2 separate regions of the Homo sapiens genome follow, and region 2 is linked to region 1. Evidence: fine-mapped expression QTL. A gene starts in region 1. The other region holds a variant in brackets. All regions are shown on one strand. Distances are from middle to middle. Region 1 holds the start of DNAJB14 (DnaJ heat shock protein family (Hsp40) member B14). Region 2 overlaps DNAJB14 (DnaJ heat shock protein family (Hsp40) member B14).

Region 1 (12,331 bases):
AAAAAGGGTTTCGTGACCAGTGAGGTGACTTGGCTTCACCGTTTGCTGTCACAGAACTATTCCGTGGAGGATTTCATAAGTAGTGAGGGAGAGGTGGAAGACCCGGCTGAAAATAAAGTGGGAGCAGCGGGTCGTGATCTGTTGGTGGCTGGGGACTCGCCTAGACGGAAGAAACACGGAATCTCTACTAAGGCTGTGGAAGGCGTCAGGGCAAACCTCAGACTCCTCTCACTGGACGCGTTCGCGCCACCTGTCAGACGGGAGGAGCCGCCAGGGATTGAGAGGGTAGGGAAGGGGTGTCCGGGGCCCCGGAAAGCGGCTGCGGGTCGCAGGTCTCCGCCCGAGAGGCGCTGGGAATGGGGCTGGGAGTGGTGGGGGCGGCGTGCTACATACCGAGGAGACTTCACGTGGTCTCTAGAGCCCTGCTAGGGGACCCGGGACGCTACCGCGCGCCCCTCCCCTGAGGTCTCAGCTCCTCCTCCCAGGCACGTGATCGCAGCCGGCTGGTAACTGCGCTCCTGCAGCGTAGCTCGCTCTGTTTCTTCCCTCCCGCCGCGGTGCCCTTCTTCTCCCCCGTTCCCATCCCTCCGCCTTCCCCCGCCTCTCCCCCCACGCCCCAATCGCGGCTTGAGATTAGAAGCGCCCGCCCCTCCACCCTTTTCTTCGCTTGCTCATTGGCTGAAGTCTCAAGGACGCGTCCCGAGGGCGGGTGGCAGCCATTGGTGGGATGAGCAATCCGAGTTCCCGGATGAGGGAACATTCTGCAGTATAAAGGGAGCAGGGAAGGCGGGAGACAGCGCAGTTTGAATCGCGGTGCGACGAAGGAGTAGGTGGTGGGATCTCACCGTGGGTCCGATTAGCCTTTTCTCTGCCTTGCTTGCTTGAGCTTCAGCGGAATTCGAAATGGTAAACTTCGCAGAGACGCTCGATGACTCCGCGGGTTTTTGCCGGCGAGAGAAAAACCCGTTACACAGAGGGATGGGGGTGAAGTGGCGACGGTTGGGAACGCGCGGAGACAGGATTTAGAAGAGTGGGGGGAGGTGTTTTGTCGGCTGCTAGCGGAGCAGCCTCGGATCTCGCGGCGGGCGGCGACGGTTGGGTGGCGCGCGCAGCGCCGCTGGGGGCCGGCGGGCGGAGGCGCGCGGCCGTGGCGAGCGCGCGGCGGGGGGCGAACGGGCGGGGTCGCCCCTGCGGCGCGCCGCGGGCCGGAGACCCCGGCAGGGTGCGGGGACGCGCTCGCGGCGGGACGCGCCGCGGTGGGGGATGGGCGCGCCGCCTTGGTAATTCTATATTCTCCGTTCCTCCTCCGCTCGCGGGCGTGTGCGCGCCGCAGGCTGGCGGTAAGGCTGGAAAGGACTCCGGAAAGGCCAAGACAAAGGCGGTTTCCCGCTCGCAGAGAGCCGGCTTGCAGGTCAGTAGTTGTTCGTGCAGTCTGGGAGTCATGATGTTTTTCTTTGCATTTCCTTTTTTGTTATTCATCGCTCTCGATGGGCGTTTTGTGTATGCGTGGGTGATGCGGTGTCGCGACTTGGGCTGCCCATACGATAAATATGGGGGGGAGGAATCACGTGTTTCGATGTCGGGACGCGTTGCTGCGCCCGTGCCCCTTGCTTTGGCGCGCATATAATTTCCCCATCTCTAGTTCTCATTTTTGTGCATTTATGTTTGTGTATGCTTAAAATTTAAGTTCCCAGTGGGCCGTATTCATCGACACCTAAAATCTAGGACGACCAGTCATGGACGTGTGGGCGCGACTGCCGCTGTGTACAGCGCAGCCATCCTGGAGTACCTCACCGCAGAGGTAAATGGGTGAACGCCTATAATCCGGAGAAGGTTTGGGGGGCGGGGAGGCGGCAAGAGGGAAGGAGGAAAGTGATGCAAGAAAACTCCCAGGCCCTGAACGCGGCGAGAGGCCTAAGAGAACGCTAGAGGGAGCTGGTGTTCAACAAGGATCCTACTGAGCTTGAGTTCTCTGCTCTTGGAATTAAAATTGCGTGCCCCCTGTATATCTTGCCAGTCAGATAGTGAGGAACGATTCCAGTTGGTAGATCTGCGTTTGTGAGGGTTTTATTCTGTTCTCTGAATCTTGGCCAAAGGAAAGTTGGAAGGCAACTGACAGATTCTGCCTTTTAGGTACTTGAACTGGCAGGAAATGCATCAAAAGACTTAAAGGTAAAGCGTATTACCCCTCGTCACTTGCAACTTGCTATTCGTGGAGATGAAGAATTGGATTCTCTCATCAAGGCTACAATTGCTGGTGGTGGTATGTTAACTTCTAACATTTTAAAAAATTTCTTCAGAGGAAGGAATTTTTTGCTGCTTTTAATTAGTTTTTCCAGGAGAGGAAATTTAAGTATATTTTCAATGATGGAAGTATGGTTGTATCATGAAATTTGATTTATATGTATAACTCAATGAATTTTTACTTCATACTTGAGCTGCATGTTTTTAAAGATACCTTTCAAGTTGAACAGTATACACTTTCTTGGTTTCAAATACTGTGATTTTTTAAAAAATCTTAAGTAGAATTAATTCCTGTCACTCTCCTAGGTGTCATTCCACACATCCACAAATCTCTGATTGGGAAGAAAGGACAACAGAAGACTGTCTAAAGGATGCCTGGATTCCTTGTTATCTCAGGACTCTAAATACTCTAACAGCTGTCCAGTGTTGGTGATTCCAGTGGACTGTATCTCTGTGAAAAACACAATTTTGCCTTTTTGTAATTCTATTTGAGCAAGTTGGAAGTTTAATTAGCTTTCCAACCAACCAAATTTCTGCATTCGAGTCTTAACCATATTTAAGTGTTACTGTGGCTTCAAAGAAGCTATTGATTCTGAAGTAGTGGGTTTTGATTGAGTTGACTGTTTTTAAAAAACTGTTTGGATTTTAATTGTGATGCAGAAGTTATAGTAACAAACATTTGGTTTTGTACAGACATTATTTCCACTCTGGTGGATAAGTTCAATAAAGGTCATATCCCAAACTAGTTGTGTATTAAATTTGCTTGGTTGTAATAGGAACTTGTTTTGAGTATCTCATCTAGCAGCAATAACTAAGCACATTTCTTTGTGACTGAACTGTCAAATCTGTAGATCAACAAAGTGAGATAGCCCAAGTATATTTTTTTAATGTTATATGAGCTACTAAAGTTTTAATTTAAAAAGTTGGCAGGAGCTGGAGTGGGATTGTCAGTTTCTTAGGCTAAGTGTGACCATTTCAGTTTGTACATTGGCTTCGCTTGCTGTGTGACAGCACTGCACTAGTATGCTGTTAGCATGGTGGACTTGGGGAGGGAGAGAATAGGTAGGAATGTCCTGTATATCCACAGAATGAACTCCGAATTTAAACTTTAAAGATAATAGTGCTACGTGCCAGGCCCTGCTTTGAAGTCTGAAGTTGTTAAGTACTCAGTAACATCATTGGGGATATACTATCTCCATTTTATCGAAGAGAAGCAGGGTTTCTTATTTGAAAGTACCGAGTTATGGTAGTTAGCAGAATTAACAGCTTGGCTCACAGCATTATGTAAAAATTGTTACCTTGTGGTTGGGTTGAGCAGGTCATTTTGACAGTTTGTCATGTTTTTTTTTAAAAAATTTGCACATAGCAAACATTCCCCCCACCCCCACCGCGAAGACTAACAAGACACGGTACTTCCAAGTGGTAATGTTATCCAAATGGGACGGAAAAGGTGAAATCAAAAGTTTGCTTTCGTTAGGGCAGCCCCTGAGGGGCTGATTCCTGCCTTGTTTTGGCTACACAGGATTAAGGTCGATCTGCACCACTCGTTGCAAGCTACAAATTAAACTGCTTTGTACTTTGGATAGCCAGACATCCGGGTCAGAAAAAATGTAGCTGAAATAAGGCTGCCATACAAGCCCTAAGATTAGGTTCAAACGACGCTCTAACGTGTCCCGGAAGTGCTGAGACTGGACTGACACCTTGGTCCTCACCTGACCGCATCCTCCCTCGCTTGAGGGGCCCAGAGGCGGAACCTCCAAGTCCTGGCAATTTTACTGAAAACGAGTGTCCCCTTCCCGGACCCTGTCCTCCTGGCCTGAGCTGCGAGGGCCTCGCCTGGAGGTCACAGGGCACGGCGCTACCAATGCCGGCAATCGGGTCCCGGGCGGAACCCCTCCCCGCGATGGGCAGCCCGGCTGCTATCGTCCGCCTCCCGGGCAGGTCCGCTTCGAGCCTGCTGGCGCCGTGCGCGGACCACCGAGTCAGCTCGGACGCCCCGGCCCAGGAGGTTGGTCCTGGGCCGGGACGGATGCGGATCGCGCCCTAGGGGCCCGCGGGGGGCGGGGAGGCCGCCGTGAGGAGGCGGAGCTGCGAGGCCCGCCCGTCCGCCCGGGCCGTCGCAGCCGCTGCCGCGGTCCCCTGCGCTCCTCCCCGCTGCCGCCGCACGCCCCCAGCCGGTCCCGCCTCGCCTCCTCCGCGGCGGCGGCTTCCGCCCTTCTTAGCTGCGCTGCCGGAGGAAACGGAAGAAGGAGCAAGCTATGGAGGGGAACAGGGATGAGGCTGAGAAATGTGTCGAGATCGCCCGGGAGGCCCTGAACGCCGGCAACCGCGAGAAGGCCCAGCGCTTCCTGCAGAAGGCCGAGAAGCTCTACCCACTGCCCTCGGCCCGCGGTGAGACCTCAGCGTCCCTTCTCTTCCTGCCCAATCCCCAGACCACCGCGTAGCCCGCCCCTGCCCCCACCTCGGCCCCTCCTGGAGGCCTGCGGGGCCCCCGGCCTGTCTGAGCCAGCCCCAGCCCCAGGCCCGGTGGGGAGCATCCCGACACACCCCCGCCCTGGCCCCAGCCCCGGCTCCGGGCTGGGGCTCGGGGAATGCTGCGCGAGGTTCCTCTGCACCCGCCTGCCCGCCGGCTCCGCGTTCCGCTGTCCTAAATGTCCGGGTTTCATTCTCCCTGGAGGAGACTTGTCTGGTCCCGTCTTACCACAGTGAGGCTTTATTTGTATCTGTGTTGTTTATGTGGCCCCCTCCCTCCCCATTCTCAGTCCTACATAAGGCCTAGGCCCCTATCGAAGTGAGAGGAATGGTGTACTCTAGTGGCTAATCTCAGATTCCATGTTTCTGAGATCTGTAGAAAACTGTTCCCAAAGCAAACATCGAATACCTGAGATGACATTGCTTTTCCCTGGGAGAGAGTTCCTTTAAAAGAGAAGAGCACACTTTCGGCAAGAATGGTCAAGAGTCAGTAATGATTGCTGAAGAGTATCTGATTTGATAACACCATGATTATCGACGAACCAAATCTCTGAGGAATATGGTACTGGGTTTCCTTTAGTTGAAGTCAGCTTATTTATTTTCCTACTCGATAGGCTTCGGAGTAATAATAGCCAACATTTATTGAGCACAAAGTGCCAATAGTTGTGCCCAACATTTTGCATGGATTATTTCATTTATTCCTCAGAACAATTCTGTGTAGAGGTGCAGGATTCATTTGACCAGGTTTACCCACGTGGAAACAGACTTTCTGATAATTAATGAATGAATTAGCGAATGAATGAAAGTATCTTACCCAAGGTCACACAACAATTAGTAGCAAAGTCAGAATAGTAGCTGAACTTTCAGACTCGAAAAGGCCTTTAACCGCTACACTGTTGCCTTGCCATTAGTATTTCCAGGTTAAGAAGAAAGTTATCGATAGATTCAATTAATTGTAGAAAATTATTAATGAAAATATGGGGCCACTTGTTTTGTTGTCTCTTAAATTTTTTTCTCTACGTCGTTGAAGCCCTGTGCTCTTTGCTTTTCTCTCTATCCTTTCCATTACATTGCCTTCTAACACTATACCCATGAGGACAGGAAAATAAAATGAAAGAAAAGAGTTAATAATTTTTTAAGTTGTGGTTTAAAAACCTGCCAAATTTACGGTCTTAACTATTTTTAAGTGTGCAGTCCATTAGTGAAGTATATTGACATTGTTGTGCAAGGACTCTTCAGAACTTTTTCATCTTACAACACAACTGTGTACTAATCAGACAGCTCCCTACCGCCCCGTCTCCTAAGACCCTGGCAACTACCATTCTACTTTGTGTTTCTGTGAATTTAACTACTTTAGTTACCTCAGATAGGTAGATTCATGCAGTATCTTTTTGTGACTGTCTTACTTCACTTAGCATAATGTTCCCAAGTTTCATTTATGTTGTAACGTGAAGAATTCCTCTTTAAAAAAATACTGATTAGGCTGGGCGCGGTGGCTCACGCCTGTTATCCCAGCACTTTGGGAGGCCGAGGCGGGCGGATCATTTGAGGTGAGGAGTTCGAGACCAGCCTGGCCAACATGATGAAACGCCATCTCTACTAAAAATACAAAAAAATTAGCCAGGCGTGGTGGTGCATGCCTGTAATCCCAGCTACTAGGGGATGCTGAGGCAGGAGAATCGCTTGAACTCGGGAGATGGAGGTTACAGTGAGTCGAGATGGCAACACTGCACTCCAGCCTGGGCGACACAGCGAGACTCCATCTCAAAAAAACAAAAAAAAAAAGACCAAAAAAAAGCTACAGTAAAAAAACTGAATAATATTCCATTGTATATATACACCACATTTTGTTAATCCATTCATCTGTCTATGGACATTTGGGTTCCTTTCACCTCTTGGCTATTATGAATAATGCTGCTATGAACAAGGATATGCAAAGAGCCTGCTTTCAATTATTTTGGATACCAAGAAGTGGGATTGTAGGATCATACAGTAATTCTATTTTTAATTTTTGAGGAACCACAATACAGTTTCTGTAGCGCCTGCACCATTTTACTTTCCCACGAACAGTACATAGGGTTTCAGTTTCTCACCATCCTTGCCAACACCTATTTTCTGTTTTTGTTGGTTTTGATAGTACCCATCCTTGAGTGGGAGGTGATATCTCATTGTGGCTTTGATTTGCATTTCTCTGATGATTAGTGATGTTGAGCATCTTTTCATATGCTTATTGGCTAGTTTTATAATATCCCATTTTTGGAGAAAATGTCTGTTCAAGTCCTTTGCCCATTTTTAAATCACATTACTTGTTTTTTTTTTGTTGAGTTGTAGGAGTTCCTTATTTATTCTGGATATTAACCCCTTATCAGATATGTGATTTGCAGATGTTTTCTCCTATTTATATGTTGCCTTTTCATCACTTTGTTGATGGTGCTATTTGATGCACATAAGTTTTTAAGTTTGTTGTAGTGCCATTTTTCTATTTTTGCTTTGTTTTTTTGTGCTTTTGCTGTCATATTCAAGAAATCATTGCCAGGAGTTAATTATTTTTGAATCCTCCCCTACTGTTGAATATGATTTCATTTAGTCATTATCTAGTCCTAGAGGGACAGTTTTAACATTAAGTGAGTAGGCAGTCTAGACAGAATAACTTGGCTTTTGAAGTCTGACTCCACCTACTAGCTTGTAACCTTATTTTTGAGCAGGGTAGAGAACCTCTCTAGCCTTTAGCTTTTTCGTCTGTAAAATGGAGACAATGTACTGATCTCATAGTGCTGTTGTGAGGATTAAATGGGTTAATACAGGTAAAGCATTTAACAGTAAGCACTCAATTAATTTTGGTGTCATCCCCATTTTACAAGTGTGAAGCTCTGAGAATTCTTAAAACCCACCCAAATGTACACACTATCATGCTTCTGTCATGCAAACAATTTGAATAAATCTCCTAAAAGATATTATAAGATACCAAAGCACAACACAGTTTGTTGCTCTTAAGGACATGAATGTTGGAAAAATTAAGAAATGTAAGGGTGAAAGTTGGTAGTACAAATGTAAGGCAGTATGTGATTACCAAATAAAGTGATAGGGGATAACTGTGTAGTCCAAAAACCTTAGTTCAGATGCAGATGTTTTCTCTGACTCCTTTTTCACCAGTGACAAATTACTTAACTCCTCTGAGCCTTCTTTAGTTATATGTAAAGTGAAGATGTCATCACAGGATTTATGTGAGCTGAAATAAAGTTATATGCCAGTACTCAGAGAAGTGTATTTTATATAGAACATTCTAGAAGATGTTTATTGGTACAATTTAAGAATTCAGGAGAGAGAAAGATCTAGGACATTTGTGTGAGATCCTGATAAAATATTTCATATAGAAGGAAGTCGAAGCTATTGGTTACAATTAGATTTTAAAATTTTAGCCCTGAATTTCACTTATACTAGTCCACCACCAAATTCTTATAACTCAGAAAGTTGACTGAATGTTCGTCTGGATATGCTTAAACTAAGAGAGGCAAAAGAAAAGATCACATTTTGATTTCCATTATTCTTACATGGTAAAACATGAGACTAAATTCCTGCTAGATTCCAGGATTTTTGTCCTCTTAAAATTTTATTTTTGCCAGGTAGGAAGTCTGATACATAAGACACTTTCAGAAATTGGCAAGAGTTTTTCTTGACAAAAAACTTAATCCCCAAATGGATCTAGGATATTGTTTCTTTCCATGTTTTTAGTTGAGAATATTATTTTACAGTTTACTTATTGCAGTGGACTTCTAAGTGAATTCAGTTGTACAACTTTCAAATATTTTAAAGTATTGATATATATGAATAGCTACCACATAGAAAATATAAATATTCTAGAAAAAATGTCAGTAAGCAGAACTCAGTAACTGTAGTTTCTGAATAAACTGTACATTTATTGAGTTATTGATATGTTCTGGATTTTCAGAGAGGGGTACAATCTGTTTTAATGCTTTGCATTGCAATTTCATAATAATTGGGAAATAGTTTGTAGATTTTTTTTTTTAAGAGAAAAGCATTTTTATTGTTTTCAGGAACACTGTAGTAATTTGAATCAATTGGTGGCTTACAGCTTCAAAAAAGGCCATTCTTCATCTACTGTAATGAACGGATAAGTATGATAATCCAAATTATGTATTGAATAGTATATAATTTGCAGCATCTATCTGCACAATAGCAATTTAAACAGTCCTTTTTCTTCCTAATTTTTTGCTACATTATTTTAAAATTTATATCTAATAAAAAATACAAAGTTCTGTCTCTTTTTGTCTTACTTAAAATGGTTTAAAAAGTAGCTTTTAAAATTGTCATTATACATCTGGAGTATTATCCAACATATTCTTTTTAAGATAATTTCAGTCTTTTGTGTTTCTGACTTAATTGAAATTTAGTGACAAGTACAAATTATACATTCAAAACAATTATTTCTATAGCACCAACTGAAGTGTTACAAAAATGATTTCCAAATTTCAGCTAGTAGCCAAATTATTTCAGATATTACAGTTGAAGAAAGAATACTGATTCAGGGTTTGAATCTTAATTTAATAATGATGTGACCTTGGATATATAGCTTAATCTTTCCGAACCTCAATTTCCTCATCTATAAAATGGAGTTTGATTTATTCAACAAATTTTTACTGAATATACATTTTTCTGTCCCAGACAATATTCTAAGAACTGGGAATTCAGTGGATAGTAAGACAGAGTCCTTGTCCTCATGGAGCTTACCTTCTAGGGGAAACATGAAGTATCTATCTGGTATATGACACAATAATTCCATTTCTGTCATTACCTCTTCCTTTCCTGAGCCTCAGCTTTCTCATTTGTAATCTTCGCAGGCTTATCGTGAGGATATTTTATTATCTTAAGTGCTGTAAGCATGTCATGTATTATTTCTATAGGAAAAAACTTGAATAGTACCTTGGAGTTGATAGTATGTTTGTCTCTTCTGTCATTTGTTAAAGTAATTATTTGAGCATAAGATAATTGCTTTAAATTAGGAGTAATATTAATTTGGATTCAACTACTCATTCCATGCTTAGTTAACATTTAGTTCTTCTGCCTTGCTGACTTCATCCCTTACATTGCCTGTGTATATAGCTGTCTCTCTCCTACATTTAAAATACCTTAGCGGTCAGGAACTATTTTAATCTTAATTATCTTTTTTACTCCCATGATGCCTAACAGTATTTTACATATATTTGTGACATCTATGGGCCTGGATTTTCTGGAATGATAGCTGTTTATTTAATTTTACTCTCTTCAATAAAGATAATTTGTTAAATAAATAACTAAATGAAAATATTATAGCCATAAGGCCTTCTATATTAATATATTCACAAATGAAGCTTTTCTATAATCAGCCCAAGTGTTCCAAAAAAAAAATATATATATATATAGGGATTGTCTCTGTAGCAAAAATTTGGAAAGCGTATAAATGTCCATTAGTGGAAACTGATTAAATTCATTGCATTCATAAATTATGCACCTATTAAAAATGATGACATGGACCTGTGTTTATTGCTATAAGGTGATATCTCTAATATGTCAACAATTGAAGAAAATTAAGCTAAAAACAGGTAGATTATTATATTTTTTTAATTTAATAATGTCTAAAAAGCTAGACAGCTAGCTAACTAGAGTAACCAAAAGGCTATAGTGATTTTTTGGGGGGGATTTGGGGGAGGGTTGGAAGGGGATTTATAAGTGATTTTTACTTTGTTATTTTATTTATTTATTTATTTTTGAGACAGTGTCTCGTTCTGTCGCCCAGGCTGGAGTGCAGTGGCACAATCTCAGCTCACCGCAACCTCCGCCTCCTGGGTTCAAGCGATTATCTTGCCTCAGCCTCCGAGTAGCTAGGACTACAGGCGTGTGTCACGACACCAGCTTATTTTTGTGTTTTTAGTAGAGACGGGGTTTCACCATGTTGACCAGGCTGGTTTCAAACTCCTGACCTCAAGTGATCCACCTGCCTCAGCCTCCCAAAGTGCTGGGATTACAAGCATGAGCCACCACGCCTGGCCTGTTATGTTTTTTAATGAGCTGAACATACATGTTTGTATAATCACACAAATAAAAGCTATTTGTATTTTGTGAAAAAGAAAAAATCTATTTGTTTTTCAAATCATGTGTTCTGATATTCAATTCAGCTAATGGTGGACATTATATAGGAGTGCAACAGAAACTTAAGAATAAAAATAGATCTCAGTTCTTCCTTTTTGGATTATCAACATAAATATTTTAAATTCTATATTAACTTTTTCATTGGTCTTTAATATGGAATATACTAAATTACATGCAGATTATGTTAAAACTCCTAGTAGAGCAGTACGTCTGGAAGGTAAATGCATAAAATAAGATTGGATAAAATTTTTCATAAAAGTGAATGTTCTCTGGTTTATAAGTACTATCCCAATTAATGTTTGTAACACTGCGCATTATTGTAAAAGAGATCCCATGTGATAGCTAAGACATTTAATAAATCCAAAAGATCCAATGTGTTCTAAATTCTCATGGTAGTTGAACTGAGTCATCTTCTTAGGCATCAGTTCCAGTGATTATTAGTACTGACAACTTTGCTGATTCCATTTTTAAGATGATTAAGCTAGATTTTGAGGCCCAGAAGTAATACAGCTTGTCCACATTTTCACTTGATGGAGCCAAAGACTGTGTAGTATGAGCTCATGTATGCACACAGCTACTGTTAGGCAGAAGCCCTGTGCATGAAATTCCAGAAAAATCTTCATTATCATAGTAACTGCCAAAAATCTGTAACAACTATATGATTCTGCTTTAGCAATATCCAAAATCTAGGTGTTAACATGGAAAATGTCCAGAGGAACCATGGGAGAACATGTTTGTGCTAAAAATGAAAGGAGGAACACACAGATAACTTCTAATTAGCATGCAGTGGGTCTTCGTGGCCACGTTTATTTATTTTGTTTTATTTTATTTCATTTAAAAAAATTTTTTGAGATGGAGTCTCGCTCTGTTGCCCAGGCCGGAATGCAATGGTACAATCCTGGCTCACTGCAACCTCCATCTCCCGGGTTCAAGCAGTTCTCCTGCCTTAGCCTCCCAAGTAGCTGGGACTACAGGCATGCACCACCATGTCCAGGTAATTTTTGTATTTTTAGTAGAGACGGGGTTTCCCCATGTTGGCCAGGCTGGTCTCGAACTCCTGACCTTAGGTGATCTACCCACCTCAACCTCCCAAAGTGCTGGGATTACAGGCGTGAGCCACTGTACCCGGCTGGTGGGCACTTTTAAATATTAAACATATATAACCACTTTCATATCTGGCTCTACAATTTTTAAAAAGTTTTTTTTTTTATTGGCCGAAATATTTATATAAAGAGATACTTCCTCCTCCACCTGTCTTATGGTTATGCAGTGGTATCGTTTATATAGGAAAATCATGATAAATGCTTGATTGCTTTTATCAGTTTTCAGGAAAAGGAGGCTATTCCTTTTCATTCTCCAAAAACTAGCAAGTTATCATTTTTTAGGTTTTTGGTTAGTGGGAGCCCCTTTATATTAGTACATTTAGTTTTGGAAAATTTTGAAATAATTTCAAACTTACAGAAAAGTT
Region 2 (12,331 bases), 21 kb after region 1:
AGGAATAAATATGGTTTACATCTCAATCATAATTGGTATTAATGTACTTTTTGATGTTATAACACCTGAAAAAAGTGAAATATAACATTAGAAGAATAGACATCAAGGAATTGAACTCTGGGTGTGTCTTATGCTTCATATTCTTTATAAAACTGGTCTGTAAAGTACCAACTCTATAGAATATTCTATTTTTTAAAGTAACCTCAAGTTACAAAGCTTTTTCCAAATAATTTTTTTAAGAAAAATTATTGCAGCTTTTTCACACAATATGTTGTTTATGTAGCAATATTAAAAGAGGATGAAGAATTGTTTTATTTTACATAGATGAAAATGGGAGAATTTCATGAGAGGAATATTGAGTGTAATAGCAACATTTTCAATTTCCTACTTATATTAGTGAAGGATTTTTTTCTATTTATATTCTTTTTGAAGGGCTATCTTTATATATATGCAGACACTATAATGTCCTTTCGCAGAAATGTTAGAGTTGAAAAGTTATACACTGGGTTTTGGGTATCTGGCTTTAATTTTATAAGTAAAAGGTTTTCTGGAAATGAAATGAAACTTTGAGTTTGAAACACTAGAGAAAAGTCTGTTTTGTTTCCTGCTAAAGCTTATGGAAGCTGTATTGATGTTGTGCTGATATTACTTTGCTAGGGAAACTAAAGATTAAGGATTTTGAACAGAGATTAATTCAAGAATTCTCATGGAGAGTGAATCATAATATAGTGAACTAACTCAAGTGAAGAGTAGTTAAAATTAGTTAGGTTAAGTCTTTCTCATTTGTCCTTTCTTGTCTGTTTCTCTTTTAATTTTATTTCTTTTTTCACCTTTTTACCCCATTCTCAACTTTTTATTTACCATAATTTGTAATTGAAGTGTATTTTGAGATACAGGTTTTATTTATTAAGGAAAGTGATTTGTTACCATATCTTAATTTTAAAATCAAATACCCATATATTTATATTTTGCATTTGTCCCTATATATTTAAATGCTAAAGCTTGATTGTAACATTTTATTTGAGAGTGATTACAATGAGAAAAAACGATTCTCTGACTGAGTGTGGTGGCTCACGCCTGTAATCCTAGCACTTTGGGAGGCCAAGGCGGGCAGATCCCCTGAGGTCAGGAGTTCAAGACCAGCCTGGCCAACATGGCAAAACCTCATTTCTACTAAAAATAGAAAAAGTAGCCGGGCGTGGTGATAGGCACCTGTAATCCCAGCTACTCGGGAGGCTGAGGCTGAGGAATCACTTGAACTCAAGAGGCAGAGGTTGCAGTGAGCCAAGATCACACCACTGCACTCCAGCCTGGGCGACAGAGCAAGACACCTTCTCAAACAAACAAACAAACAAACAAAAAAGGATTCCTTAATCATGGTAAAGCCATGGTAGAGTATTTGATTAGTATGAATGGTAGTGAAGCACTTTGAGAATATAAATAATGCTGCTAACCATTTTTATACTTATAGTACTGTGTCAGAGGTAGCTGAATAAGTGAAAGAAGTGAATAAGTAAGAGACTTACTTTTGAATTTATTTTGTAAAAAACGTTTATTAGTAAGCAGTGTGCTTGAAACACGTTTCTGGAAACCACATCCTAAAACAAATTGTATTTGCTTATAGGATTTAATTTATGTTGGGAGAACATATTCTCAATGAAGGATTCAAAGAAAGTTAAATGTATTTTATATATATATATTTAAGAATATAGAATCACCTATATATTTGAAAGTTTACCAAAAAACTATGGTTGAAAGTTTTGAAAAAGAAGACTCTCCTAAATCTGGTGTTATTTTAAAAAGTCTGTTTCTTCATTTCCTCTACCCTAGCCTTGAAAGAAAAAGAAGAGTAGTCCAAGGTGTGGTAGAAATAAGGAAGGAAGAGCATTGATGCCTCTTTGTTCTGGTATTGATTATATATATATGTGGGGTGGGGTTGGTTTTGTGTGTATGTGGGTGGTTGTGTGTGTGGTTCTCCAAAGCCCAGAGGAACTGGCTGTAGGCAAGGAGACACCTTGAGAATGGAAGAATGAAAGATGATGCTGAGTGTAGATACACTCTGTATGTGGCCAGAGACATACAGACATACAGGTGGAGACATAAAAGGTGGAAGGAATTTTTCTGTTTTCTCTGTCAAATTGGAGATGAGGCTGTCTTCTGAGAGTTAGAAGAAAAGAGATGAGGTTGAAAGCTTAAGAGAGTGGTAAAAGTATGGAATATTTGCAGAGGAGAAAAGCAAAGGGAATGAAGTATTGCTGATTTAGTTTTAAGGCCCAGCCACATTTGGGACCATGAATTCTTTAAGAGTGGAAGAAATAGCTTAGTAGTATACCTGTATTAGAGATTGGTCCTCTGGTCAATAATCTCATTATACCTTTTTAATTAAATGTAATTTTTTTTTCTTTTGGGGACTAAATATGATTGGAACAGTCTCTAAGAGAATCCCCAAGTTTTCAAAATACTTTAGTCTGTACTTTATGTGAGTTTCTTAGCTGAATATACCTTTTCTCTTATATTAGCCTTCATAAGTGTTGCTTTAGTGAGGGTACAGATCACCAGCAAACACTTACATGATGTATGTTTTTGTTTTTTCTTTTACCTATACACAGGGGATTTTTCTGAAGAAAGCCATGTTATCTTGTTGGTTAGCACGATTATGCAAACAAGTTGCTCAGTGACAATTTGGCTCAATGGGGAGAAGTCTTGCAATAATACTGCATCCATTGCATAAGTAAGAGCTAGCTTACAGTAAGACTGAAGAGAAAGTGTGTAACTTTGTAAACTAATATTCTGTTAAACTTGGCGATTTGTTTTTTTTGAGTTGAAGTGTATTGAAAAATAATTGAGACAAAGTTGTCATGGATCTTATTTGAAATTTTTAACATACCATTGAAAAACTTTAAAACTTTACAAGATCAGTGTGAAATTATTAACTGGAGTATCATTGTATTTATCAATTAGAAACACTGTACAACTGTTAATTATGGGGATTTGAATTTAAGATTTGATTTAAGCTTCCGTTCTTTCAGAAGAAATCATTTCGCTAAACTTATAAAATAAGTAATTCTTTTTCTCAGGAATAAATAAATGTTTCCTTAAACACTAGTTAAATTTGGAGTATATTTAAATAATTAGCTATATAGCACACATGAAAAAAAGAGAATCGAAAAATGACCTTCCTCTCCCACCAACTATGCTTCCATGCACATAAGAGAAGATATAAAGTCTGGACCAGGCAGAGTTTTCCCATTGTTGAGCTCCACACAGATCCTTTTGGCCTTGTTGTACATTATTTCCTTCCAAGATAGGTAATGGGTTACTCCTTTTTAATTTCTTTTAATTCTTCAGTGAGGCAGGAGAAGGTTTTACTCTTTTAGAAAGCAGCAGATTGTAAAAAGTGTGACAAACACATGTAGCTGATGAAAAGGAGCATGATGAACAACAGTATGAATGAAAATAATTATATGAATGATAATTTCTCATTCAGGTGTGAAAACTTAGGTGAATGGGTATATTTGGAGCATTACTTCAAATACATAGTCTTCAGGCTGTCCATTGGTGATGATGACTGTAACTTCTGGCTTCTCAAGAATTTCTTCTCTAATATATGATGAAAAATTTAGTGCAGAGGAGATATGGTGGAGCTGGATACAGCTAAGAGTTAGTGAAATAACTGTTTTTCATGTCTGGCCCCCCCTTTTTTTTTTGTTTGTCTGTGGCAATTCTTAGCTTTATGACCCTATCTAGAGCACTGCAAATTTTCACCTACTTTGTCTACAGTATCCAGCTGTCTTTTTAAGTTGACCAGGCTTTTGTGCTCAGTAATTATAAACAAGACAATTTAGAGGCTTAATCTGGAACATAATTAAACATCCTACACACTCAAACCAAGTAGTAATGGCTTTAGGATTGTTCAGTGTTTAATTTACCTTTTATTTTTTGCATTCAGGTAGTGTCTGCCATATTCGTACCTCTCCACCTTGTCTCACAGTCTGTTTCACTTCTATTAACTGCTTCTCTTCTATTCCAAATGATTTTTAGTACTAACTACATTTTCATGACAGCATTCATCACATTTGATCTGAACGTGACTTTTTAGATCCTCACCATTTCTGCTCTCAAATTGAAAGTCATTTGTCCATCCATCCAACATATATGGTGAACAAAACATAATCCCTGCCTTCAAAGAATCTGTGATCTAGAAGTGTTATCAGACAAGTAAAGAGGCAACTGTAGTACACTTTGGTAATTGTTGGGATAAGGCTAAGTTCAGAGGATGTGGGGAGGATATAAGAGGGGCAGCAAACCTAGTCCTGAGGAATTTGGATTCTTAGGAAAAGGAAGAGCTAAGTCAGGGTCCGGAGAAGTTGTAGAAACTAGCTAACCAAGAAGAGAGGCAGAGAAGGTGTGCTCAGCACCAAAAGCAATTGCAAAGATCTAGGAGGTAAGAGAGTCAGCTTCAATACTGATGGTAAGAAAGAAATAGGAAGATGATAGGTCACTTTGAAGTCTGAAGGGTATCCTTTTTTCTGTATTCCAGTTCTGAGACAGCAAGATTTTCAAGTCAGATAAACAGATTTGAATTCTTAACTGTGAGGCCTTCCTTTATTACTTATTTGAAATAGAAGGCCTGCCCTTCCTTTCTCTGTTTCTATTAGCTTCTTTATTTTTCTCCAGATATTTATCACCATATGATGTACATTATATTTTACTTATATATTTGTTTATTGCTTGTTTTTCTCCCAATTGTAAATTTAATGTGATTTTGACTGTTTTATTCACCACTGTAGCATCTGAAATTGTGCCTAACAGAAAGTAAATGGTTAGTAAATTTTTGTTGAAGAAATAAGTCCTTATTCTCATCTGTTACTTGGTTATGTGAATTTAGGCAATTTACTTAACCATTCAAAGATTGGTTTCCTTATTGGTTAAATAGGAATAATATCTACCAAATGAGGAGTAAATGAGATAATTTGTGTAAAATAATCAGTATAATAAAATTCTACAATTCTTTATGTGAAATCTTTGTGACCAAATGCAATTTGGAATTCAGAATTCTTCATATTTTAGAAAGGTACTAATATAGTCGGCTCTCCACATCTATGGGTTCTGCATCTGTGGATTTAACCAACTTTGAATTGAAAGTATTTGGTGAAAAATAACAATACAACAATAAAAAATAATACAAATTAAACAACCAATATAGTGTAACAACCATTTACGTAGCATTTACATTGTCTTAGGTACTATTTATAACCTAGAGATTATTTAAAGTACATGGGAAGATGTGTAAAGGTTGTATGTAAATACTGTACCATTTTATATCAGGGATTTGAGCATCTGTAGATTTTGGTATTCAAGGAGGGAGGATCCTGGAACTAATCCCCTGTGGATACCAAGGGATGACAGTGTATTTTATATTATACATCTTAGAGTCTAGGGCAGCAGTCCATAACAAATAGTAACATTTCTACAGCAAAACATACAGGTATTCACACTTAAATGGGATAAATGAAGATTCTGTAGTAGCTTCACATCTTTTCGGTCAGATTTTTGCCTAGAGGCAAAATCTACAGTTGAATTCAGTTTTTTATGCAGTCAAATTAGTTATAGAATAACTTTGATTTTTCAGAGCTTTATGGATATTGGAACATTGATATGGGATGGTGGACCTGTACCTAACACACAGTAGGTATTTTATAAATGCCCCCCATTTCCTTTTTTTCTATCACATAGCTTCTAAACATTTCTAGGAGAATGAGTCTCTACACAGGTGGGATCATTCTCTTTTTTTGTTTACAGATATATGTCAAATGCCTAGAACACTGTCTGGGCATAGTTAGTATTCAATAAATATTATTGACTAAATAAAGGAAATGTCATGTTTTTGGAATAAAATTGATGTATGTTAATGTTTTTAAGTATCTAAAGTAGAAAAATCCAATTTTAATTTCTGTAAATTTGTACAATTTTATATTACTTTCCCTTTTTACCCCCAAGTTCATATAACAAATGATAGATGCCTTCATTATATAAAGAAAGCTAAGGCTCATTTACTTCAAAAATATTTACTGAGATCCTTTTGTGTGCCAAGCACTGTGATAACTAATAGGTGTAATAGTAAAAAAAAAAAAAAAAAA[AT/T]CTTGTCTCTTTTCTTTGAAAACTTTGAGTCAGTCTTTGCAGTTCTTTTGCTGCCAGTGTCCACTTATACCCTAGATCATTTTGCCTGTCACTAACTCTGTCATCAAGCCACCTGCACATGGAACACATCTAAAGTTGCAAAGTACTCTCCAAAAATTTTGAAAATGTACTGTGGCTTTTGTGAAAGTAAATTACTAGGTTGTGGAAGAAGGTTGGCATCCACATGTACGTAATGTTCTCTGTTCCATTCAGAGTATTTATTTTCTAATCCTAATATACTTTAAAGATTTCAGGCTTAAATCTCTTAAATCTTTAAGGTACAAACTGTATGTATATAATCTTTAGAAATGTGCTTATCACAATGAAAATCAGGGATAACATTTTTTGAGTCACGTGTTATATTTTATCATGAGATGTTATCTTTTTCAGAGAGTGATACAGATAAATTATCTTTGGCATAACGGGGATGGCCGGGTGCAGTGGTTTATGCCTATAATCCCAGCACTTTGGAAGGCTGAGATGGGAGGATCATTTGAGGCCCGAATTTCAAGACTAGCCTCAGCCCCAACATAACAAGACCCCATCTATATCAAAAATAAATAAATATTGACATTTAAACCATAGAATACTGCTGTTGTTTTGCGTGTACTAAACTGTTGCTTTGATAGTTGGTTAGATCTACATTATGCAAGAACAAAATTTTTGGAATGTAATGCATGTTCATTCTTAGCTGTGACATACTTTTGAGGAGTTTTGGAATTTATTTATCCACTTACAAGTACTAAAAAATTATTATTATTGTCTCATTTTAGTTACAATATATGCTCTGACTTTCATCCACAATTATTATGGGCTTTGTTTACTTCTCTGTAGTTGTGATACATTACACTAAGGACATTTTCATGGTTTACTCTTCTTAGATTCGGGAAGAGGTTGGAGGAATGGTCTGTGGTCGAAAAAGAGAATGAAGCAGACTAATCCTTAAAGGGATAAGCCTTCATTAGATTTTGAGAAAGAGTCCACAGATAGTTCTTTATAGTATTCTAATAAATTAAAAATTAGAGATATTACATGACCGTCTTCCTTGAAATTTACATTATAACACACTCTCTTGTTCACAGCATAAACAAATGTAAAAATTACTATGAAGTACTTGGAGTTACGAAAGATGCTGGTGATGAAGATTTGAAAAAAGCTTATAGAAAGCTTGCTTTGAAGTTTCATCCAGACAAAAACCATGCACCTGGAGCAACAGATGCTTTTAAAAGTAAAGTAAACCTTTTAAAGCAATTTTACTAAGCTGTCTTTAGAATTCACTTTACGGCGTTTCAGAATATTAAGTTCTGCTTTTGGACTGGTGCATTTAGAGACCAGCACAAGCAAGAGTCTGGAAAATCCTTTAAAACTTCAGTATTAACTGGTTATACCCGAAGGCAAACAAATGCAGTTTGGCTTCACAAAAGCAACATTCCAGTTCTGATACAGTCTCAAGTAACTTTTCTAGGCACATATGCATGCTTTCTTGTTTACCAGGAACAAATAGGGTGATGATTATGCATGAGCTTCTAGCGTATTGTCATCTGGTTCTAAATGAACTAAAAGCAAAATATAGTTTTTTTGAGTTTTTAAGGTACAAGAGACTGTGTGGAATTTGGATATTTAAGAAATAGCTCCCCAGTGTTCTTTTATTTCTATTAAACTTTGCCCAGTTTTTTCATTTTATATATGTAGTTTTAGCTAATGTTATTTTTTTCTTTTTAAAAATTAATATCTTTCCTCTTGCCTACTATTTATTTTTTTATTTTCCATCCCAATATTCTTTAAATTTTTTGCCAATTTAATAAATGTCAGAGAAGTGATTTTGTAGTTTTATATTTTGTTAAATACAATTTATTTGTAATAATTAATTTCTAATTCATAGTTAAATGCCTAAATTTGTGATTGTTCATTCTTGTGAATTTGGCATTCATAAACCCAGTGTATAATGTTTACAGTACAATGGTGGGGTCTTAGAATAACTGGAAGTAGATACTCATTTTAAACATCTTCCAAAAAGGTAGAAGAAGCAATTGGTCCTTCATGAAAATACCGTTAAGATTGTTTCCAAAACAGTTTTATTTCTTGAAGGAAGTTGCCAAGGAAAATACATTTGGGAATTAATAATATATTCCAATAAAAGCCACTGCCAAAGTGGTGCTGGTGAAAGTAAAATACCACTGTGACAGCGAGAGCTGTCTCAGTTTGTTTCCTTAAAGTAAAAGTGGCATGTTGAAAGTACAGGAAAAGCTTTACTCCAAAACACTAACTTGCAAATTACATTTCCGTCAGTTCATTACCTGAAGAATGTATCCAGAAAATAGTGCCATTATTTTATTTCCTCCAAATACACACCTTTATTAAACAAAGATAAAGCTTTCATTTTAAAAAAACACAGATAATAGCACTTAGGTTAATTTATAATTCAATAGTACAGAAAGTTGGGAAATTTCTGATGGAATTGTCAAATACAATAAATATTTGTTTAATTTGTTTTATAGCTTGAGCCTAATGTATGCAGTCACAGAGTTACCAGAAAAAGTAACTGAAATCTTTAAATAGCTAATTTATTATCATATATTCCCCCAAAAGCTAAAAGTGAGTTTAGATTTATGAGTTCCACAAATTTAATTTAAAATTTTTTGAGTTTTAAAAATGTTTAAAATATTTTGGCAGTGGGTTATTTGTATGTTTGTGATCTGCTAAGTGATTTCAATGTTAATTCTTTATTAATGCTAAGAACATTAAACTATTTCTTCCACTTCTATATTGAAGTCATGTTAGCATCTTTGAATAACACTAAATGTATGTAACATATTTCTGCAGCCTGTGTTGCGTTTTGAATAGGTTAGCAACATAGATGTCACCTAAGGAAGCCCGCTAGACACTCAGTGGGGTTTTACAAAACTGGTTACACTTTCATGTGGTACATTTCAGAGTTTAGTGCTCTGCTTTGCAAAACTAGAAACTTAATACTTACCAACATGCCGGGAAGTGATTTATATCTGAGGAGAGGATACATTGTTCAATACACAAAGAGATTACCTGTAAATCAGAATGCCAGTTTATTAGTCCCAAAGAGGATCAGAATAGGGAATTGGCTGATGAGCCCATTTTTCACTGAGTGGAAACTGCATAGAAAACTCAAGTTGTAATCCACACACGCTTGGCGAGTAACAGTAGTTAATTAGAAAATATTACAGATGGCATCATCACACAGAAATGGCAGGTTTCATTCATTTAGCACACAGGATCTTCTCATTATCTTCTGTATCATCTTATTTTATTTTTAACCAATCAGTCTGTTTTTGGAATACTAAGCCATTTATCTCTGAGCAAAGACAATACTATTGTCTTTTTTATAAAAGCTAAAGTATGGATTGATTGCTCTGTAATTACTAAAACACTTTTTACAGAAAATGGAAACTACTTGCTTTCATTTCCTTCAAGAATAGAAAAAGAAGAGGTAATTAGTAATTAAATGAAGAGATGTTTCATTTGTGTGTTTTGTAAAGCTTTAAAAATAAAAAAGATTGCTCTCAAGGAGAATGGACTAAATGAACTCATATGTTCATATAGCTATTTTGTCCTTCCAGTTAGGATTATATGTTTCCCAAGAGGGGAATATTTTATTTACATGTAAAGTGACTTGCAAAATACATGTAAACATATTTTAAAAAAATATTTTAATGAAATAAGTCCCTTTCCTTTTTTCTGATGTAGATGTCTTTAAAACATACCCATCTACATTATCTTCAAAGATTCCCAAGTATTTCAGAGACTATTTGAATAATACCTGTGTCTGTTGACATACACATGAATGTAATAATGGGGCATGGATTAGTTGTTTATGTGTTTGCTTGACAAGTAGTAGTGGAATGGGAGTTGTTGCTTGTATTAGTTCTGGTAGTTCAATATGAACATCTAGAGTATATCTCTAAGAACAAAGAGTTTAATTCTGCCATTTGGGCTAGTTCTTGTAGAGAAATACAGTGAGAGAATCTGAGATATCCTCTTCCCCAAATAATTTATAATTCATAAGGGGGAAATAAACCTTACACAGAACTTTTGCGATATAGTAATGCCTCACATTTAACAAACATAGTTTTTCATTCCCATTTTTACATTTAATGCTTATTTAAAAATCTCATCAAATAGTTAAGAGACCAGTGTCATTCTTATTTCAAAAATAAAAAAATTGAGACTCAGATTTACCCAGGATCTCACAGAAGACCAACTATATTTAAATACCAAAACAGACTACAGAAGTCCAAAGAAAAGTTAGAAAGATGAAGACTCATTGTGAGCAGAGTAATTGGGAAAGCCTTCATAATAGTTAGAATTAAGGTTAAAATTAAGAGTTTTCTCAAGAGTTAGCATGATTTCTATGGTTAAAGAGAGGGGTTGGCAAAACCTTGGCAGCGAAAATGAGGTGGGTGATCTAAAATTCCATGAGGACTTCCACTTTCAGGAAGATAGGACAGATATACTTTTCCCCATTTCTCCCAATGAGTACAACTGAAAACCCCAAACATTAATATATAAAATAAAGAAAACAAACATAGGAAGACTCTGAAAGATGGAGAGAAAAAAGGCAGACCAACTAGGTAGGGACCTCAGGATTCAAAGAACAACATATTAGTTAGTTGCTTAGGTTTTTGTTTGTTTGTTTGTTTGTTTGTTTTTTAAGATGGAGTCTTGCTCTGTCACCCAGGCTGGAATGCAGTGGCGCAGTCTCAGCTCACCGCAACCTCTGCCTCTCGGGTTCAAGCAATTCTCTGCCTCAGCCTTCCAAGTAGCTGGGATTACAGGCGCCTGCCACCAATCCCAGTTAATTATTTTGTATTTTTAGTAGAGATGGGGTTTCACCATCTTGGCCAGGCTGGTCTTGAACTCCTGACCTCGTGATCCACCTACCTCAGCCTCCCAAAGTGCTGGGATTACCAGTGTGAGCCACCATGCCTGGCCTAGGTATTTTTTTACCCCATATATATCCCAGATTAGGTGCTGGAGGAGTAGGCAACCCCAAAACACCAATACATATAGACAGAAAAGCCCCAAGAAAAGCCTGCCTTATCTAGCCAAATGATCAGGAAAGGGATAGCCTAGAAAGACAGAAAAACAGTAGCCACTCTACTGCAAACACCACAGGAAAAATTGTGGCCCCACCCTGACCCACACTAGCAAAGTCTGAGTAGAGAGCCTATACTACCACCCCCTCTGTGCTGTAATGAGATGCTACCACCCTCTCTATGCTGTAATGAGATGCTCTAAGCTCCCTGCTGGGATGGTAACAGAGAAGGTTAACTAGATAGCTTAGACTTTCATTTATGCTGGGTAGTAAGAAAGGCTTCCCTCATGATGTCAGTGGAGATCATGTGGACTTTCACCTCCACCTGGCAATAAAAGGGTGCTCATTCTCCCTGCTAGGGTAGTATCATAGGTAGCCTAATGCACAGTCAGGACTTCAGTCACCACCCACAGGTAACAAAGTCATTTCCTTATGGTATCAGGGAAGTTAAATGGAGAACAGTAATGAAGTATCTCTTCTCCTCCTAGCCAGGGAGACGTAAGTGGAGGCCTGATGTTCCCATAAGGGAACTTACGTATCTATCCAATGGGACCCCTCCCCTTGAGTGTCTTCAGAGGCCAAGGGAAAAACCCTGGACTTCCACTCCCACTTAGGAACAATGAGATGGTATTCCCCCTTCTCTGCCAAAGTGGAGTCAGAGGAATACAATAAAAACAAAATATGTAAATAAGATCCAGACTCTCATAAGATAATACCCAAATTACGAAGTTTCAGTTGAAAATTACTTGTCAGTCTAAGAACCAGGAATATCTCAAACTCTATAAATGTTTATGATCATATAAATGTTTCAATGAGCAACTACAAATAAACTTAAAAGAATCTCTGCAAAGCAATAGAAAGTCTGAGCAAAGCTATTAAAAGTATAAAGAACAAAATAGAAATTTTACAACTCAAAAATAAACAAAAACTATCAATGACTAGAATAAACAGCAGAATGGACAGATAGAGGAAATAATTGGTGAGCTAGAAAATAGAAAAATAGATGTTTTCCAATTTGAACATAGAAAATAAGCTAAGATGAAAAAGGACATAGCCTCAGAGACAGGTGGGACTATAGCAAAA

The links. PIP is the estimated chance that this variant, and not a neighbour inherited with it, causes the effect.
Region 2: its variant is the best candidate, but not a certain one, in a credible set for the expression of DNAJB14 in whole blood (INTERVAL, PIP 0.80).

What each region holds. Positions count from the first base shown.
Region 1 is chr4:99,938,743-99,951,073 of GRCh38, reverse strand. DNAJB14 (DnaJ heat shock protein family (Hsp40) member B14) reads left to right here and starts at 4,456. Exons shown (of 8, transcript NM_001031723.4): 1 at 4,456-4,635. The coding sequence starts at 4,503. H2AZ1 (H2A.Z variant histone 1) reads left to right here and starts at 799. Exons shown (of 5, transcript NM_002106.4): 1 at 799-906; 2 at 1,334-1,411; 3 at 1,688-1,801; 4 at 2,134-2,263; 5 at 2,551-2,986. The coding sequence starts at 904. The coding sequence ends at 2,612. It overlaps H2AZ1-DT (H2AZ1 divergent transcript), which reads right to left and starts at 580. Exons shown (of 4, transcript NR_125923.1): 1 at 394-580. RefSeq lists silencers at 209-418, 459-508, 1,169-1,218, 1,299-1,388, 4,193-4,852 and enhancers at 330-934, 879-968, 2,009-2,058, 1,540-2,145, 5,023-5,072.
Region 2 is chr4:99,918,117-99,930,447 of GRCh38, reverse strand. It overlaps DNAJB14 (DnaJ heat shock protein family (Hsp40) member B14), which reads left to right. Exons shown (of 8, transcript NM_001031723.4): 3 at 7,263-7,408. Among named protein-coding and RNA genes, the nearest start is that of DNAJB14, 22 kb to the left of the region's middle. The variant AT/T (reference allele first, on the strand shown) is at 6,141.